Linked DNA regions of Homo sapiens: region 2 is linked to region 1. Evidence: fine-mapped expression QTL. Tissue or cell type: skeletal muscle. Region 1 holds a variant in brackets; the other region holds the start of a gene. All regions are shown on one strand. Distances are from middle to middle. Region 1 overlaps FARP1 (FERM, ARH/RhoGEF and pleckstrin domain protein 1). Region 2 holds the start of FARP1 (FERM, ARH/RhoGEF and pleckstrin domain protein 1).

Region 1 (9,642 bases):
ACCATCACCAAAGAGGAGGCTCACAGAAAGACATTCTACCTGCAAGGGAAGGGACATAAGTCAGTGCAATCATTTTGGAAAGATACATTAGTTTCCAGGTCAAAAAATAATGAATGAGCTGTAGAAAATGGAATGGCAATTCCTCAAAAAATTAAATATAGAATTGCCATACGATACAGTGATTCCACTTCTGGGTATAAACTCAAAAGAAATGGAAGGAGGGATTTGAACACATATATCTGTATGTGCACGTTAATGGCTTTTTTTTTTTTTTTTTTTTTTTTTTTGAGACAGAATCTCGCTCCATCTCCCAGGCTAGAGTGCAGTGGCGCGATCTTGGCTCACTGCAACCTCTAACTCCTGGGTTCAAGCAATTCTTACGCCTCAGCCTCCTGAGTAGCTGGGATTACAGGCACATGCCACCACGCCCAGCTAATTTTTGTATTTTTAGTAGAGATGGAGTTTCACCACGTTGGCCAGGCTACTCTTGAACTCCTGACCTCAACTGATCCACCCACCTCGACCTCCCAAAGTGCTGGGATTACAGGTGTGAGCCACCACGCCCGGCCCATATCATCTTTATTCACAACAGCCAAAACGTAGAAGCAACAAATAGATGGATAAACAAAACATGGGATATACATACAATGGATTATTACGCAGCCTTTAAAAAGAAGGAAATTCTGACGCATGCTACAACATGAAGCACGAAGAGATTATGCTAAGTGAAATTAGCCAGTCACAAAAGGATGACTACTGTATGATGCTCCTTACATGAGATATCCAGAACAGGGAAATTCAGACAGACAGAAAGTAGAAGAGTTACCAGGGGCAGGGGAGAGAGAGAAGAAAGATGGAAAATGTTCTGGAGCGCCAGGCGCGGTGGCTCACATCTGTAATCCCAGCACTTTGGGAGGTCGAGGTGGGTGGATCACCTGAAGTTGGGAGTTCAAGATCAGCCTGATCAACATGGAGAAACCCCATCTCTACTAAAAATACAAAAAGTTAGCCAGGCGTGGTGGCTCATGCCTGTAATCCCAGCTACTCAGGAGGCTGAGGCAGGAGAATCGCTTGAACCAGGGAGGCAGAGGTTGCGGTGAGCCAAGATCGTGCCATTGCACTCCAGCCAGCCTGGGCAACAAGAGCGAAACTCCGTTTCAAAAAAAAAGAAAAGAAAAAGAAAACGTTCTGCAGATAGATGATGGTGATGGTGGCACAATAATGTGAGTGCACTGAATACCACTGTGCTGCATGCTTGAAAATGATCAAAACAGTAAATGTGGCCGGACGCGGTGGCTCACGCCTATAATCTCAGCACTTTGGGAGGCCGAGGCAGGCGGATCACCTGAGGTCAGGAGTTCGAGACCAGCCTAGTCAACATGGAAAAACCCTGTCTCTACTAAAATTACAAAAATTAGCCGGGCATGGTGGCACGCACCTATAATCCCAGCTACTTGGGAGGCTGAGGCAGGAAAACTGCTTGAACCCAGGAGGCGGAGGTTGCAGTGAGCTGAGATCGTGCCACTGCATTCCAGCCTGGGCGACAGAGAGAGACTCCATCTCAAAAAAACAAACAAACAAACCCATCAAATTTTATGCATATTTTACCACCACAGCCAAAAAAAAAAAAAACTAATTATCAGAATCAAAATCACCTGGTATGTGTTAAAAGGTTTCTAAAGGAACCTATGCTGCTTCCCAGGAATGGTATCAAGAAAGGTAGCATCCCATTTCGAATGCCAAGAAAATTACATACTAAAGAGCAGAGCACTTGCTTATCTCCCCAAGTTTTCTATGGGTGTTCTGATCACGAGGAACCTTAAACAGAAAAGGAAGCCCCCCCAACATAAAGATCTAGGACAAAACGACACCTGAACCAACCATAGAGAGCTTTATCTTACCAATCCCAACGCCTGCATGCTTCACTTTCTTGACTTGCCCTGTTAAGCCCTTTCTAAAAATTCAAGGGCTCTTTCCAGCGGTATACTGCTTTTGTATCAACTCATGGGGACCTGCTGTTAAATTTTCAGGAATTTTTACCAGCCAGTTATTATATAAAGATATGGATTAAAATAAATTATATCAATATTTATTAAGCATAAATTTTACAGAAGTAATGAATACTCAAAAATCATCACTTCCCAATTATTTTACATTTTACTTTTATCTATCTGTGATTGTGAGGTTATTTTGCCTGCTGCATCTGGATGGTAACAATACTACATAGGAATGTGCTACCACACACTTTTTCCTAACTCTGTGTGCAATGATGTCATGTTGGTAGCCTGCAACTGGCCATGGTGGAAATATTTACACCACGGAAACTGGCAAACTCTATGAATTAGAGTTTTGTTTTTGTTTTTCAAGAGAGCTGGTTGTGAAACTGGTTCTTCCCTGTTCAAAGTATCTTGTCAATAAAATTATGTATTTTAAAATACACTTGAAGTATTTGCCAAAAACATCAGAATGAATTTATTTTAATCCACAAAAGAGAGTAGACACGGTACTAGAAACAATCTTTTTAAAAACAAGTCCCTCACAAATTCTTAGAGCATAGGATCACTGAGAAAATGTAAAGGCTGTGGAGTTGGCCACTGCTATACACCATCACCAAAGGCGGAAGCAGGATGGACATTAGGAATCCAGGCAATCGCATTTTGGTATTTTTTTCCCTTCAAATATTTTTTAATGTAGAGTCGTACTTCCTTAAGAAGCAACAACAGGTGAATCACACTCCACATACTGTTTCATAAAGCACCTTTACATGTTAATATAGTATGAACAATTTTCCAAAAATCAAATAACCTCCTACATCCTTATTAGCACAGAACTTTAAAATGACACATTAAAATGACACATTAAAAGGCAGCCGGGCGTGGTGGCTCATGCCTGTAATCCCAGCACTTTGGGAGGCAGGTGGATCACCTGAAGTCACGAGTTCGAAAGCAGCCTGGCCAACACGGTGAAACCCCATCTCTACTAAAAATACAAAAATTAGCCGGGTGGGGTGGCAGGCGCCTACAATCCCAGCTTCTTGGGAGGCTGAGGCAGGAGAATCGCTTGAACCCAGAAGGCAGAGGTTGCAGTGAGCCGAGATCTCACCACCACTCTCCGGCCTGGGCAACAAGAGTGAAAACTCCATCTCAAAAAAAAACAAACAAAAAACAATGCTTGCTGGCTTTTTGAGTCTGACACTGCTCTCCCTTCTCAAGTATTTTAAAAGTTAAAATCTAACTGGGAAGGTGGAACTGAAGGAGAAACCATGTGGATGTCATTTTTAATACCTATGACCTGGCCTGGATTAACAAGGAAAGTGAGGGTGAAGAAAGGGCCTGGGGGAACAACCGCCATGCCCACCATATGTCAAGCCTCAGAGAGCCAGGGCGCTAAGGGGACTGGCTGTGAGAGAGACACACAAGCCTCCTAAAAGCCAAAAACCGAAGGAGGATCATTCTCAAGGTAAAAGAAATAACAATTGTTTGGAGGACAGTGGAGGCAGCGAGTATGAGCAGGTTTCACAACACTCCCCACCCCTGCCTTCCAGTCCTCAGCATACCCCACACCAGTTTTTGCGGCAAACAGCTCGGCCTCATTCAAAGATGAGCGACCACTGAATAAGAACACAGGCAAAGGCAGCTAATAAGGTGCGTTTGTAAAAATAATCAACAGAAGCTGCTGCATAACAAAAATGCAGTGCCCGCTGTTCAGAAATTATTAACAATTTCAAGACAATGACGGGAGCATTCGTCCAAGCGTGGACCCTTAAGTGGATGCAGAGGTCCCATGCCCAGGAATCTGGGCCTGAAAAACGAAGGTAACAGACTAAGAGCTCAGAAAAAATAGTCCTCCATTGTCTCAAAAATATTAAAGATAAAATGGTCCTTCTAAAAATGGGGAGCTCAGAGACTAGATATGAAGTTCCAAAGAACTGACAGTCATCAATCTAAGAGATTTTAAATGGACTGATAGAGTTGAAGAAATAAATGGACTAGAAAAAAAAATATCCAGAATGGAAGCCACACAACTACAGTAAAACATAGTGTAAGCTTCTGTAAACAGAGGCAGAGAACAAACAAGGAAATCACTCAAAATTACTAAAAAGGAACAACAAGAGGGACAAAGATACACAAATGATAATAAGAATAGATGCTAGATTTAGAAGGCAAAGAAGATAAAACCTAACAACTATGGTTCCCAAAAAGTGAGCACCATTCAAAATATATGCAAAAATATTAAAGGATCTTAAAATTTTACTGATATAAAGACAGACTTGAATCAACAGATATTATGGTATAGGACATACCAGGAAAGTGACATAAAACAGCCAATGCCCAAGCAATGCTGGTAAAACTCTAAACTTCAAAAAGAATCAGAGAACCTCATGGGCACATCCAATGGAAAAAGCTAGTCATGTGCAAAAGAAAGAAACATTAACCCAGCCTCAGCTTTCTCTTCCAGAAATATCCAGTGCTAAAAAAGAATGGGAGCAATGTCTAAG[A/G]AATTCTGAGGGCAAGAACGTGTGGCCCAAGACCTTGGTACTCGGCCAAATTGTCCTTCAAATATAAAAGCAAGGAACAGCTATCCTTAAGTGTTAAGACCTCAAGGAACACAGTACCTACCAGGGCTTCTCTAAATAAAATAATGTGGCTGGATGCGGCCACACTGGGTTTACCCCTGTAATCCCAGCACTTTGGAAGGCCAAGGCAGGTAGATCACTAAAGCCCGGGAGTTTGAGACCAGCCTGGGCAATATGGCGAGACTCAGTCTCTACAAAAAATACAAAAATCAGCCAGGTGTGGGGGCGTGTGCCTGTAAGTCCCAGCTACTCAGGAGGCTGAGATAGGAGGATCACTTGAGTCCAGGAGGGTGAGGCAGCAGTGAGCCATGATGGCACCACTGCACTCCAGCCTGGGCGACAGGGCAAGATCCTGTCTCAAAAAATAAAATCGATTAAATAAATAAAACAATGAACCAACCAATGAGTCAAAATTTAAAACTCAAGCAAGGTAAAAAAAAACAGTAAAAAGACTAACAAGTTCTGAATCCATCCTAAAAGGGGACTAAGTCAAAGAGCTATGGGAATTGTGGCATTATTAGAATAGAAATGTTACAATCCTTCACACTGTAAAATTCATAATTAACTGATAAAATTTTGGAGCTTGGGAAAGAGGGGGAGCATAGGTCAGTTCTATTTTTTTTTTAGCTTTCAAAGGAGAGAGTCTCACAAACTCATAGTTTATAAGAAATTATTCTAATCTCTTAGTATTTATTATTTATCATCTTGTCATAAATTTAGTTTCTAAAAGATAGCGCTAATCTCTCTTGCAATGAAGTCAGCATTTCTATCTTGCTTTAGTTTCTTTTCCTTTGCTTTAATTCAAGTCTATTTTATTTTACATCTTTAAGTATTAAATACCATGTGTGATAAGACCCCATGACCATGGCAAGTTCTAGACAGGGCTCAAAAAATGTTACCAACATCATTGGCCAGGCACAGTGGCTCATGTCTATAATCCCAGCACTTTGGGAGGCCAAGGCAGGAGGATCGCTTGAGCCTAGGAGTTTGAGGTTACACTGAACTGTGATTGCGCCACACACCCCTGGGCAACAGTGAGACTCTCTCTCTCTCTCTCTCAAATAAATAAATAAATAAATAAATAAATAAATAAATAAATAAATAATATTATTTCTAAATGGTAAGATTTAGGGTGAGGTTTTTCATTTCTTCTTTTTACTTTTTTGTATTTTTTTTATAATGAGAATGTATCACTTCTTCCCAAACAAGTCACTTTTTAATAATAAAGAACAATCTTTTCATTACTACCTAAGAAACTGACTTTATTGGTTTTGCTCTTCTCCATCGCTGCCAGCCAGGCAAAAATCTAAACTTAAGTCTATTCACTTATTATTCTTCCTCTTATACCCCACTTTGCAGGGGATAAAACTGAAATCCAGGGCAGTTAGGTCATTTGCTGTCGGTCACAGCGCCAGGATGTAACCTCAGACAGCCAAGCTACGTTAACATGTGAGCTGACAGAATTACTGAAGTTCATTTGGTTCATCCCAATTTTTTCCTTCACTTAGTAGGCATGTGTGGACCTAAACCAGCAGGGAGAAGTGCTATCTGCAATGAAACGGCCATACTCATGCATGTCTGGTGGATGTACATACAATACAACTCTTTCAGAAAGCAACAAGAGCAAAATTCTGTCTTAAAAAAAAAAAGACTTAAAAATGCTTAAACTCTGTAATTCTGTTTGTAGGAATCAACCCTAAGAAAACAAATGTAAACACAGGGAAAGGTATATAAATGAGGAAACACATAATCTAACAACAGAGTATTAGGACAATAAGGCATCATAGACTCATACAATTGATCATTATGCAGGCATTAAAATGCACATTATGGAGAAATACTAAGGAACAGGGGAAAATACTTATCAAGTGAAGACAGCCCACTACCATTCCTCATTCAACACAGCAGACTGCACTCAGGCATTCACCCCTATTCCCTCCCAAAATCCCACTAAAATGATAAACATTACTTTACAAAGGCAGATTCCCACAAAAGGAGCCAGAAGAAAGAGACACCAGAGAAAACAAGAACATCAATAATATTTTAGAAGAAATAAAGTGAGCTGAAAAATCTCAACTAACTTGGAAGAAGGCTGAAACTGAAGGCTGTGGAGGGAGATGACAAGCAGCAGCATGCCAATTTCAAGACAAATCCCAGGAACTGCAAGAATCAAGTATCACTGGAAACAGATATGGCTCCACACAAGAAGACTGGCTGAGAATCTGAAAATTTTCTGATACGGTTTGGATGTCTGTCCCCTCCAAATCTCATGTTGAAATGTGGTTAGTGTTGGAGGTAGGGCCTGGTGGGAGGTGACTGGATCATGGGGGTGGATGCCTCATGAGTGGTTTAGCACCATTTCCTGGGTGCTCACCCAGGGATCTTGTTCTGGTTGTTTAGAAGTACGTGGCCCCTCCCCACTCTCACTCCCACTCTTGCCATGTGACACAGCCTGCTCCCCCTTTGCCTTCCACTGTGATCAACTGGAAGTTTACTGGGGCCATCACCAGAAGCAGATACCAACGCCATGCTGCTTGTACAGCCTACAGAATTACAAGTCAATTAATCCTCTCTTCTTTATAAATTACCTAGCCTCAGGCATTCCTTTATAGCAATGCAAAACTAACACAATCTCCCACCCCATGCAGCCTTTCCCTAGCCTTTCCCTAGCCTGGCTACCCTTTCCCTAGCCCGGCAGAAGCAGGAGATATCTCTTCTGTGGAGGCTGAATCTAGGAGGGCCTAAGCTCAAAGGGCCCGGGAACAACCAAAGGTGGGAATCAGATGCTTTACTAAAAATGAGGAATTAAGTCAAAAGTTTTTTGTTTTGTTTTGTTTTGTTTTTTTGAGATGGAGTCTTGCTCAGTCACCCAGGCTGGAGTGCAGTGGCTTGATCTCGGCTCACTGTAAGCTCTGCCTCCCGGGTTCACGCCATTCTCCTGCCTCAGCCTTCCGAGTAGCTGGGGCTACAGGCACCCGCCACCACGCCCAGCTAATTTTTTTTTCTATTTTTAGTAGAGATGGGGTAGACCAGGATGGTCTCGATCTCCTGACCTCGTGATCCACCTGCCTCAGCCTCCCAAAGTGCTGGGATTATAGGTGTGAGCCACCATGCCAGGCCAAGTCAAAGTTTATACCCCAAATTATAAGGCCTTCCCTTCCCAGCCCACTTCTACAGCTCTTATCACAGAATTCTGGCAGCAAAGATCACACCCCACAGCGGAATGTGAGATAAGTCTTCTCTGTAGAAACTCGAGAACCCAGCAGAAAAGACCTATGGACACTGATATGGTTTGGCTATGTCCCCACCCAAATCTTGAATGGTAGCTCCCAAAATTCTCTTGTGTTGTGGGAGAGACCCAGTTACCAGAGATAACTGAATCATGGGGGCAGTTTCCCCCATACTGTTCTTGTGGTAGTGAATAAATCCCATGAGATCTGATGGTTTTATAAGGGCAAACCCCTTTCACTTGGTTCTCATTCTGTTCTCGTCTGCTGCCATGCGAGACATGCCTTTCACCTTCTACCATGGATTGTGAGACCTCCCTAGCCACATGGAAATGTAAGTCCATTAAGCCTTTTTCTTTTGTAAATTACCCAGTCTCAGGTGTGTCTTTATCAGCAGCGTGAAAACGGACTAATATGGACACCAACATCTGGGGGTCTCCAAGAAAAAAGATGGGTTCCAACTGAATCACACAAAGGACAGTCCAGTGTACAAGCCCAACAATACCGATGGATTCCAGCCAGCTTTTAGGCACCTCACTCTGAAGTATAAACAGCTGGAGATAACCAAGTATTTTAGAAAAGCTTCCAACATGAAAGATGGGATGATAACAGTTGAAGAAAAATCTAGAATTACTATCCTAAGAGAAAACTGACAAATGATGAATTGTTCTTTACACTGTAAGCTTATTCATCACATTTCCAACAGCTGAGGATGCCTTGGTGTCTAGGAAGAGAGACCCACACAACTTCTCCCTCATCCCACAGCAGCCAGTGTTTTGGGGGCACTACAAGTGAGCTGAATCTCATCTTCCATTCTAGTAAGTAAAGAGATAGAACCTAAATTAGAAAAAGAAATTGCATGTAACACTTTATGACATGCACTGGCTAAATAAGAACTAGAATCCATTTACATTATATAAATGAATTATTTCACAACTTGAAGATAAACTCAAGAAAAAAAAGGGTTAAAAATATTTGAAGGCGGGGTGCAGTGGCTCACGCCTGTAATACCAACATTTTAGGAGGCCAAGGTGGGTGGATCACCTGAGGTCAGGAGTTCCACACCAGCCTGGCCAACATGGTGAAACCCTGTCGCTACTAAAAACACAGAAGTTAGCTGGGTGTGGTGGCACACACCTGTAATCCCAGCTACTCAGGAGGCTGAGGCAGGAGAATTGCTTGAACCCGGGAGGCAGAGGTTGCAGTGAGCCGGGATCATGTAACTGCACTCCAGCCTGGGCGACAGAGCGAGACTCTTTCTCAAAAAAAAAAAAAAAAAAAAAAAATTAAAAATGATTATCTTAGGTACCAGGAATTGGCGTGTGGAGGGGCCAGGCAGGGGACAGCCAATTTCCATTACAATAAGTGCTTGATAATATTTTTTTAAATGTTTACATGTGTTACTTTTATTTCAAAATGAAAGCCAGCTACACACCCACAGGTGCAGTGTGATATGACAGTCTTTTAATAAAGGCTATATTAAAAGAATAGACACAAAAGTGTTGACAGTGGTTATCTTTGAGGGGAGGGATTATAGGCGTCTTACTTTTTGCTTGTATCTGTTTTTGTTTTCTGCACTGCGCGTGTGTTGCTTTTAAATACGCATTTCAAGCGCCTGTGTTTTAGGATGAGCACCACCGGTTCGCTATGGCCTGGAATGATTCCACCCGTGGCCTTTTAGGAATCTGTTGAAAAATGAGTGTGCACTGAGGGAGCTGAGGAGCAAGTGAAGATGACTCTCTCAAGGAATCCATCTGAGGGCCAGGAGGCAGGTCAAGGGAGGGAAGGGCGGGAGAAGCCTTTTTTTTTGGTTTTTTTTTTTTTAATTTGAGACAGGGT
Region 2 (9,642 bases), 39 kb after region 1:
CAGCTCACCACAACCTCCGCCTCCCGGGTTCCAGCGATTCTCCTGCCTCAGCCTCCCGAGTAGCTGGGATTACAGTCACGCGCCACCACGCCTGGCTAATTTTGTATTTTTAGTAGAGACGGGGTTTCTCCATGTTGGTCAGGCTGGTCTTGAACTCCTGACCTCAGATGATTCGCCCGCCTTGGCCTCCCTAAGTGCTGGGGTTACAGGCGTGAGCCACCGCACCTTATTGTCTTTTTTTTTGAAAAGGAACCTCTGTCTTTTTACAATCTGACTTAGCTTTAAGGATTCAATTGCTAAATTAGAATGAAATGAAAACAAAATCAAATATCAAACTGCCAGAACTGCAATCTATCAATTCTAATAACAAGTTTCCTTTAAAAACCCTAAAGACTAATTTGAAGGGATGGTAAAAACTGGATTTATTATTCATTCAACAAGGATTTACCAGACTGGGCAACATAGCGGTGAGACTCTCTAAGAAAAATTTTTTTAAAGAAAAAATTAGCTGGGCGTGATGGCATGTGTCTGTAGTCACAGCTACTCGGGAGACTGAGATGAAAGGATTGCTTGAGCCCAAGAGGTCAAGGCTGCAATGAGCCATGATCACCACTGCACTCCAGCCTCGAGTTTTTTTCAAAAAGAAAACAGAACACAATAATTTACCAAGGGTTTGCTATATTCAGATACTATACTAGATCCTGAATGAACAAGAACAAAAACTGAAAGTCATCATAATACTGGATTTTTAAGTCTTCTAATTGATAATAAATTTATGCAAAGCATTTCGTCAAAAGTCTGCACATAAAGTGAAGTTACTCTTGTGGTCAGAGGTTATTATCATAATTGAGAGTTAAAGGCAGTCTAGTGTGGCCTGAGGCTCTTCTTTTTTTTAATGTGTGAACAAATATGACAGTTTTACATATGAAATTCATTCAGTGTAAATGATGAATTCCCACATTAATTGCAAGTCTTGAAGTTCATAATTTCCATCCCACATTAAACTAAGAAAACTTAAAATCTGAGTTAACAGTTTGCAGGCAGCACTGAGCATGCCTCAGTTTCAGTCTCGCCGGATTAGTATCAAAAGCTTCGAGCATGATATTTTAGTAATGTATCCATTATCCACTTTTGCTCAAAGTATCCACTTGGCCAAACATTTTTAACTAATTCAAACCAGGGCAAGGGCATCCTATAAAAAGTTTTGCCAGTTTTAAATACACGTTTTCTGGGGGCTTCTTGATTGAAAACAAAGGCTGCATTTGGCAGAACAGGACTGGAGAAATCAGTATTTCAAGTAATTTGAATGAAAACCGTTTGGCTCTGATCTTCCTGGCCATGTGGAAGTGGTTAAGGAGGTAACAGCCTACCTAAGTTGCCATGGGTGAAACAGAGAGAAAGGACTGTGACCCAGTACCACCACAGAATAAACTCTGACACTAAAAGACAAGAAAAGAAGTTGATCCGCTGCTTCCCATTCAATAGCCAGGCTTGGAGAGGCTCCTTTCAATCAAAAGCACCAAACAACAGGAGAGAGACTGCCACGAGAGCCTAAAACCCCACAGCCTCCCTTCCCAGGCAAACGGTAACCAATACAGGGAATGCCTGTCCTTCCAAAGTAGAAAGACTTTAGCACCTGCATTACAGGACTATACCTGCCCCTCTTATCTGTAGCACCTTCAGCTGGTGAGGAAAGTGCATTTCTCAAAAACACTAAGCAGTTATCTGCAATAAGCAAGGCCAGTTACAAAGGGCTTCTTTAAAATGTCCAGTCCACCATGCTATCAAAACATCAGGCAAGGCCAGGCTCTGTGACTCACGCCTGTAATCCCAGCACTTTGAGAGGCCGAAGCGGGCAAATCACCTGAGGTCAGGAGTTCAAGACCAGCCTGACCAACATGGAGAAACCCCGTCTCTACTAAAAACAGAAAATTAGTTGGGCATGGCGGCAAATGCCTGTAATCCCAGCTACTGGGGAGGCTGAGGCAGGAGAATCGCTTGAACCTGGGAGGCAGAGGTTTCAGTGAGCCGAGATTGCGCCATTGCACTCCAGCCTGGGAAACAAGAGCAAAACTCCATCTCAAAAAAAAAAATCAGGCAAGTACAGTACTTACAAATCCACAGAATTTCTCTTATCCTCTGGGAAAATCACAATGCCATTTTTCCTAAGCATATTCTGCCTGCAGAAACCAGCCTTTTATCCTTTCTCTAGTATTCTCTAATCCCGTCCAGGATGAAAAGAGTTGTTTTTTTCTGATGTTTATCACAAGCATCCTCCTCATAAATATATACAATTTTCCAAATGAATTAAGCTCTTAGGTGTTCAATAAATTAAATGAGTATAAGCTTCACTGTTTAAAAAAAACTAACCCTTTCAATGCTATCTTATTTGTATCTTTAACCAAAAAACAAAACAAAACAATTTCCTTGGGCAGTTCCTTTTTTCTCTTTTTTTTTTTTTTTTTTGAGACAGAGTCTCACTCTGTTGCCCAGGCTGGAGTGCAGTGGCCCAATCTCAACTCACTACAACCTCCGCCTCCTGGGTTCAGGCGATTCTCCTGGCTTAGCCTCTGAGCAGCTGGGATTACAGGCACCTGCTACCACCCCTGGCTAATTTTTGTATTTTTAGTAGAGACAGGGTTTCACCATATTAGCCAGGCTGGGAAATCCTGATCTCAAGTGATCCGCCTCGGTCTCCCAAAGTGCTGGGATTACAGGTGTGAGCCACCATGCCCAGCCCCCTTGGACAGTTTCTTTAACGAAAAGTGAAACAAAAACGTTCCTCCAGGTTCCTTGTAAACTCTGGATAATTCTGAGGTGAATGCAATAACCCAGTAAGAAACTTGTCCAGGATAATTATTTTAAGATCTTCTTTGATAAGTCTGGCTACAGAGTAAAGTTAACATTCTATTATGAAGCAAGGAATAAATCCATCCCTGTATCAATTAAAGGAAGAGAATATCAATGTGAAAGGGGGCATTAGAAACCACGCTTCAAAAGGATTCCCACAGTGACAGAACTTCTCAATGAAACACCACACCCCAAGTAACGGGGGCGGGGTGGTGCACCATAGAATCTGCCCCTAGGAGGCACAGCCACCTCCACACCGAGGGTTTCCAGTTTCCCATTCACATAAAAGAAACAAGTAAGAGATTCTGGGAGGCGCTGGGCTAGGAAGGCATCTACTCACTGTCTCCACCAACAATTCCCTCAGTAAAGCAGCCATTGCCCAATAATGCTTCTATTTATTTTACCCAGAAGCAGATCTATTAGCCAGACATTCTAAAAACACAAACGCTTCGTTGTGCTTGGAGTAACTCCAATATTGATGCCTTGCTGCAGAACGATGCTGCAGGAATATAAAGTGAGCCATGTGCTAGCTGTACCCACTTATGAAGCACACTGTCAGAAACTGTCACATCCTGGAGACCAACCCATCCGAAAGACTGAGAATAAACCCCCTACGAGAACACTGTGGAAGGAGGGAGAAAGCCAAAGATAGGATGAAGCAGGGCCCTCCTAAAGTCTCCGGAACAACGAAGCCAATTTTTAAGGCAACTCTCCCTAAAGCTTTCAGGACCAGAAAGATGTTTCTTTCTCCTCTCCTTGTTCAGACTGAATAAGAAAAGCAAGACAATGCTGGAGGATGTTCTGAAATGGGCTCCGCAAGTCACCACGTGCAAAGCACATTAAACAGAAGCCAGTGCTAGGCCAGGGTTTGGCTCTGAAGATGTTGCCTACTGGAAGGAGAGGGGCCCCCGGGGGTTTCCACGCAGAGACCAGGGCTGGGCGGTCAAACCTGGTAAACTGACAAGGAGAAGAGCCTTAACAACAATATAATGAAACGGCCAGAGGCCACCGGTACTCCCCAGGGCTGGGAGAGACAGGGAGGCCGAGGCTGCTAAACTGTTCCAGATGACAAGCAGGCTCTCCCACGTCTCCACGAACTGATCAGATACCAGGGCCTCGCTTCTTTGTGAGCCTCAGCTCCCTCCTTTCTGGGGAACCCTACTCGATCCCCAACAGCCGCTGGCCTCCAGCTGCCACAAACGAGATCCAGACTCATTACAGGGAATTCGTATTTCCCCCCCTCAAATAAAACACACACACACACACACACACACAGAGTCTCCGGGGTCCAGCCGGATCACACAGCTAAAGTTTCCGGAACTTGAATCGTAAAACCACAATCAGAAGTTGTTTGGAAATACTCGCCGCAAAGCAATCTGTCCTTTGCTTTAAAAAATAAAAAATAAAAAAAACTTTGCCCTGCATAAAGGCAGACAGTAAAGAGAGACACAAATCTAACTTGGGCAGAGGGTGTGTTCCTCTTTGTCACCCGCCGGGAACCCTCGCGCCGCGCGTGGGCGAGCGGCGGGCACCCGGCGGCATCCGCGCCAGCGGCCACCTCCCCGGCCCGCAACCGGCCTCAGGGGCCGAGATTGCGGCCCGAGGTCCGGAAGCGGCGTCCAGCGCTGTCAGCGGGCGGGTAGGACGGAAGGAAACGGGGGAAGGGCGCCGGGGTCGGGGGAGGCGAGCGGGGACCGGCGCGGAGCCCCGCAGCCCGACGTCGGCGGAGGTGAGGGGAGAGGGGCGCAGGGGGCAGCCCGGAGCCCCGAGGCCCCCGAGCTCCTGCGATGGTGGCCGGGGCTGCCCGGGCCCGACCCGCCGCCCGACTGCGCAGGGCAGGACCTCGGGGACCACGCGCCCACCTTCGCCCGCAGCCGCGGCCGTGCGCTGCGGGAGCCTGGACTCGCACAAGTTGCCGCCCGCGGCCCGGACCCCGCCGGCCCCCGCCCTCCCGCCGCGGTCATTGTTCACCGCGCGCCTCCTACCTCCACAGCGCCGGCGGCTGCGGCGGCTCCCTCTCCCGGCTCGGGCTCCGGGATCGGCGGCTCCCAAGCCCCCGGCGGCCGAGGGCGCGGCGGCGCCGGCTATTAATACCCGCGGGCGGCGGCGGCGCGGGCGCGCGAGCAGGGCTGGCGGTGGCCGGCTGAGGTCCGAGCCATCAAAGGTGGCGCGGGGCGGAGGGGAGGGCGGAGCAGGCGGGGTGGGTGGGGAGCGGGCTCCGGGTCGCCATGGCCGCCTCGACGCCGGGGCCAGCGCTACTCGCGCAGGGAGGAGCGGCGCAAAGCGGGCAGCGGCCGCGTCCCCGCCCCGCGCCCCAGCCGAGCGCCCGCACCGCTGCGCCCGCGCCGGACCCGCCGCCTCTGAGGCCGGCGAGCGGGAAGTGCAGTGGCCACCGCCCCTCCCCGGGTCTGGGCCGGCCCCTCGGCGGGGGGAGGCGGGCGCCGCGCAGCCCGAGCAGCGGGGACGCGGGAGAGCCACAGCCCCCTCCAGCGTCCGGGCCCGCGCCCTGCGCCCGCCCCGCCCCGCTCCGCTCCGCCCGGGCAGGTGCGCCCAGGGGCCTCCCGAGCCCAGCGCGCCGCCGGGGATCTGCGCCTCTCTTGGGCTTCCGGCCAGGGCCGGGCTCCGCGCGGCGCTACCTAATGCAGCGCGGGGAGCGCCACTGGCGAGACGCGAATCCAGCAGCTGTGGCGAAAAACGAACCGGGGAGAGCGGGAGACGTGTGCACGGCGAAGCCGGGAGCGGCAGGCGGGCGGTCAGGGGCTCGGACTCTGCAGGTCGCTTTTTGAGGTCCTGCCTGGGGCTGCTTCGCCTGCGACGTCGCGCGGGGAGGACAGTCTTCAGGGACCCACCGAGCCCTCCCCTCCCCCGGAGCCACAGGCACGGGCTTCCGGCACCACCCCGGGCTGCGCGGGACTTAAGCTTGGGGGAGCGGCGGCCACCCCGCGCCCGCCCACGTCCTGGCCCAGCGCCCTCCGCCCGAGCGAATCCCATGACAGTTCCCGCCCGCCCAGCCTCGGGGGACAGTGCCCTTGGGGAATGGCGTGGGGGAGGTTAGGAGTGGCTTGCGGTGCTTGAGAGCCTTCGGGGTTTCGGGAACTCTACGGAGCGGGGAGCAAGATTCAGGACCCAGGAGGCAGCGATCTAGGGGCACAGTCACCGTCCCCACCCAGCAGCTGCCGCGTTACCTTCTCTTCCCCCTTCTGAGCCTCCAGTCCCTCTCTCTAAGCGTGGCGGGAAGAGGCCTAGGGCGCAGCAAGTGACGTTCTGCCAGACCCGGGGCTAGCGGATTCCGGCCTTCGGAGGCCACTGGCTCAGAACCGTGGGCCTTTTGCGTCTTACAGGAGTTCCCTGACCTCAGACCGAGAGGGCAGATTTCACGGGAGAGGCCTCAAGTGAACTCACAGCTGGACAGGAGCTGGGCAGAAGTGGAGTGTAGGGACCCTGATAGAAGGGCGGGTTGAGACAAGAACAGGGGTCTTGGAAGTAGGGGGTGCTTGTGGGCAGCTCCTGGGGAGGAGCAGAGATGTAATACTTGCAGATTTGGTGGTCTGTGGTTGAAGAGAAGAAATGGTGGGTTTGAGGCTTTGCTCTGTCAGCCCAACCAGCTGTGTGTCACAGATCAGATTTTTTTCTGCTCGTGATTCTCTAAGTGTGGTTCTCAGACCACGACCACCACCAGCAGCCCCTGGAAACGTCAAGAAATGAACATTCTTGGGCCGCATCCCCGACCTACCTAATGAAACCTTAGCAAGCATCTGAATCGCCTGCAGGGATAAAGGACTGTCAGGCTCCATCCCCAGAGCTGCCGATTCAGTAGGTTTGGGGTGGGGCCTGAGAGTTTGCATTTCTAACAAATTCCCAGATAGTGATGTTGCTCTGGTCCTGGGATCACACTTGGAGGATCACAGTGTTAGGACAGTGGGTCTCAAACTCATGGAATCATCTGCGATTAAAAAACAACACCCTGGTTGCACCCCAGCCAAATATATAAAGATTCTAACCCAGGCATCAGTAAAGTTCCGCAGGTGATTCCAGTGTGTAGCCAGGTTTGAGAACAGTTGCTGTAGGCGGCTTTTTAAACTCTAGTGTATACCTGAATCACCAGGGAATCTTGTTGGAATGCAGATTCTGATTCAGTAAGTCTGAGACTGTTTCTAACAAGCTCTCAGGTGTTACTTGCTGGTCCAAGGACTACACGTAGTAGCAAAGTGCTATGTCATACCTCCCAACTAAAAGGAAAAAATTAGGCCGGGCGCGGTGGCTCACTCCTGTAATCCCAATACTTTGGGAGGCTGAGGCAGGTGGATCACCTGAGGTCAGGAACTTGTAAACCAGCCTGGCCAGCATGGGGAAACCTCGTCTCTACTGAAAATACAAAAATTAGCTGGGCGTGGTGGTGCGCGCCTGCAATCCCAGCTACTCGGGAGGCTGAGGCATGAGAATTGCTTGAACCCGGGAGGCAGAGGTTGCAGTGAGCCGAGATCGTGCCATTGCACTCCAGCCTGGGCAACAAAGTGAGACTCCATCTCAAAAAAAAAATCATAAAAATAATAAAAGCAAAAAATCATAGAAAGCGCAGAAAATTAGAAAAGTGACATTTTCCCAGTCACTCTCTTTGCAAGACCGACATTTTCTACATGTTACAGCATTTCTTTCATAGTCTTTGTATGTCTAGAATTAGATTTAGTTGTGATCTTAAAACTATTTATGATCATAACACATAATATATTGATCATATTAATCAATATGATAATACATAATATCCCATGTTGCCTTATCTCAACATTATCAACATTTGTGAAGGTGACTTTTAAAGGAGCCGTTCTGAGGTTTGCAGGCTGAGGGCAGGAGCCCATGGGGAGAGAGTTAATGGGGGAAAAGAGAGGGGAGAAGGGGCAGTTCTGGGAATCTAGTTAGAGAGGCTGTAAAGCGGTGGGGTCACACTAGAGAACTTCCTACGTTTCCTCCCAGCTCTCACCAACATTCCGCGGTTGGTACCTAACCTGATAGAAAGTACTGTTTCTTTTAAGAGAGGGTCTTGGCTGGGCGCTGTGGCTCAAGCCTGTAATCCCAGCACTTTGGGAGGCCAAGGCAGGCAGATCACGAGGTCAGGAGATCAAGACCATCCTGGCTAACACGGTGAAACCCCGTCTCTACTAAAAATACAAAAAATTAGCCAGGCATGGTGGCCGGCGCCTGTAGTCCTATCTACTTGGGAGGCTGAGGCAGGAGAATGGCGTGAACCCGGGAGGCAGAGCGTGCAGTGAGCCGAGACCACACCACTGCATTCCAACCCGGGCGACAGAGCGAGACTCCGTCTCAAGAAAGAAAAAAAAAGGAGTCTCGCTCTGTTGCCCAGGCTGGAGTGCAGTGGCACAAACATAGCTCACTGCAGCCTCGAACTCCTAGGCTCAAGTGATCCCCCTGCCTTGGCCTTCCAAAGTTCTGGGATTACAGGCATAAGGCCATCGTGCCTGGCCAGAAAGCACTTTTTAAATTCCTCTCCCTGAAAAGCCAGGGGTACCTGGCCTCGAAAATCCTGAACCTGGAAAATCAACTTCTGAAAAACTTAGGCGTTTCCTTGTCATTGTGTGTCATTTATGCTTAACTTTCAGAATATAAAAATGTATAATCCCCCTAGATCCCCCTTTTATCCCAAGCTGTGGCATGGGTTATTTAGAAATCTTTCTGGATTAAGGAATCACCCTGTGCTTAACAATTCCTCTTATTAATTTTAACTGTTTTACTGTAAAACGTGTGTACATGTCAAGATAAAATTAAGCAGTATAGAAGAGTATGAAGTGAAACCTAGAAGGAACCCTTCCTGCATCCCTAATCTCGCTTCTTAGAAATAATTTTCCCAACAGTTTTTACAGTCTTTCAGGAATTTTCTGCTCATATACAAAAGTGTGTGGGGGCAAGCAAATCTTTCATATTAAGAGATCACACGTCACAGTGAAACACAACTTTTTATTCCATAGTTCCCTCCCCTTCAACACATCACCTTTCGGAGAACCTGGGTTTAGGGTGATGATGCTCTCTGGACGTGACAGTATGCACTGACAGTAACTGAGGCAGCCTGTATTAAAACCCAAGGCGGAAAGAGATCTGCTTGTAGCATTTGTGGTGGGCTCATTCTGTGTAATCCCCCTGCCTTGAGTGTGACCTAGTGACTCGCTGCTAATGGATAGAATACAGAAAAGGAAGGCAGTGTCACTTCTGTGATTAGGTCACAGAGCACTGTAACTTTTTTTTTTTTTAGACGGAGTCTCACTCTGTCGTCCAGGCTGGAGTGCAGTGGTGCAATCTCGGCTCACTGCAACCTCTGCCTCCTGGATTTAAGCAATTCTCTGCCTCAGCCTCCTGAGTAGCTGGGATTACAGGCGCGTGCCACCACACCCGGCTAATTTTTGTATTTTTAGTAGAGACGGGGTTTCACCATCTTGGCCAGGCTGGTCTTGAACTCCTGACCTCGTGATCCACCCGCCTCAGCCTCCCAAAGTGCTGGGATTACAGGCGTGAGCCACCGCGCCAGGCCCATAACTTCTTACTGATACGGTCTTGCCCTCTCATTTGCTCACTTTGATGAAGCCAGCTGCCATGTTGTAAGATGTCCTATGGAGGACCCACAGTGGCAAGGAACAGAGGGAAGCCTTACTCCAACAGCCCTGGAGGCACTGAATTCTGCCAACAACCATGTGATACACAAGTCCTTTCCAGCTGAGACTTGAAGTGATGTCAGTGTCATGAGGAACCCAAAGCCAGAGGACCCAACTAAGCAATTTCTAGAGT

What was found.
Region 2: FARP1 starts here. The variant in region 1 is fine-mapped to the expression of FARP1 in skeletal muscle (GTEx, PIP 0.96).

What each region holds. Positions count from the first base shown.
Region 1 is chr13:98,177,637-98,187,278 of GRCh38, reverse strand. All of the region lies in intron 1 of FARP1 (FERM, ARH/RhoGEF and pleckstrin domain protein 1), which reads right to left. Among named protein-coding and RNA genes, the nearest start is that of RNF113B, 5.2 kb to the right of the region's middle. The variant A/G (reference allele first, on the strand shown) is at 4,499.
Region 2 is chr13:98,138,686-98,148,327 of GRCh38, reverse strand. FARP1 (FERM, ARH/RhoGEF and pleckstrin domain protein 1) reads right to left here and starts at 5,234. Exons shown (of 27, transcript NM_005766.4): 1 at 4,836-5,234. LOC105370328 (a long non-coding RNA gene) reads left to right here and starts at 4,418. Exons shown (of 3, transcript XR_931670.4): 1 at 4,418-4,489. RefSeq lists silencers at 5,184-5,493, 5,734-5,783.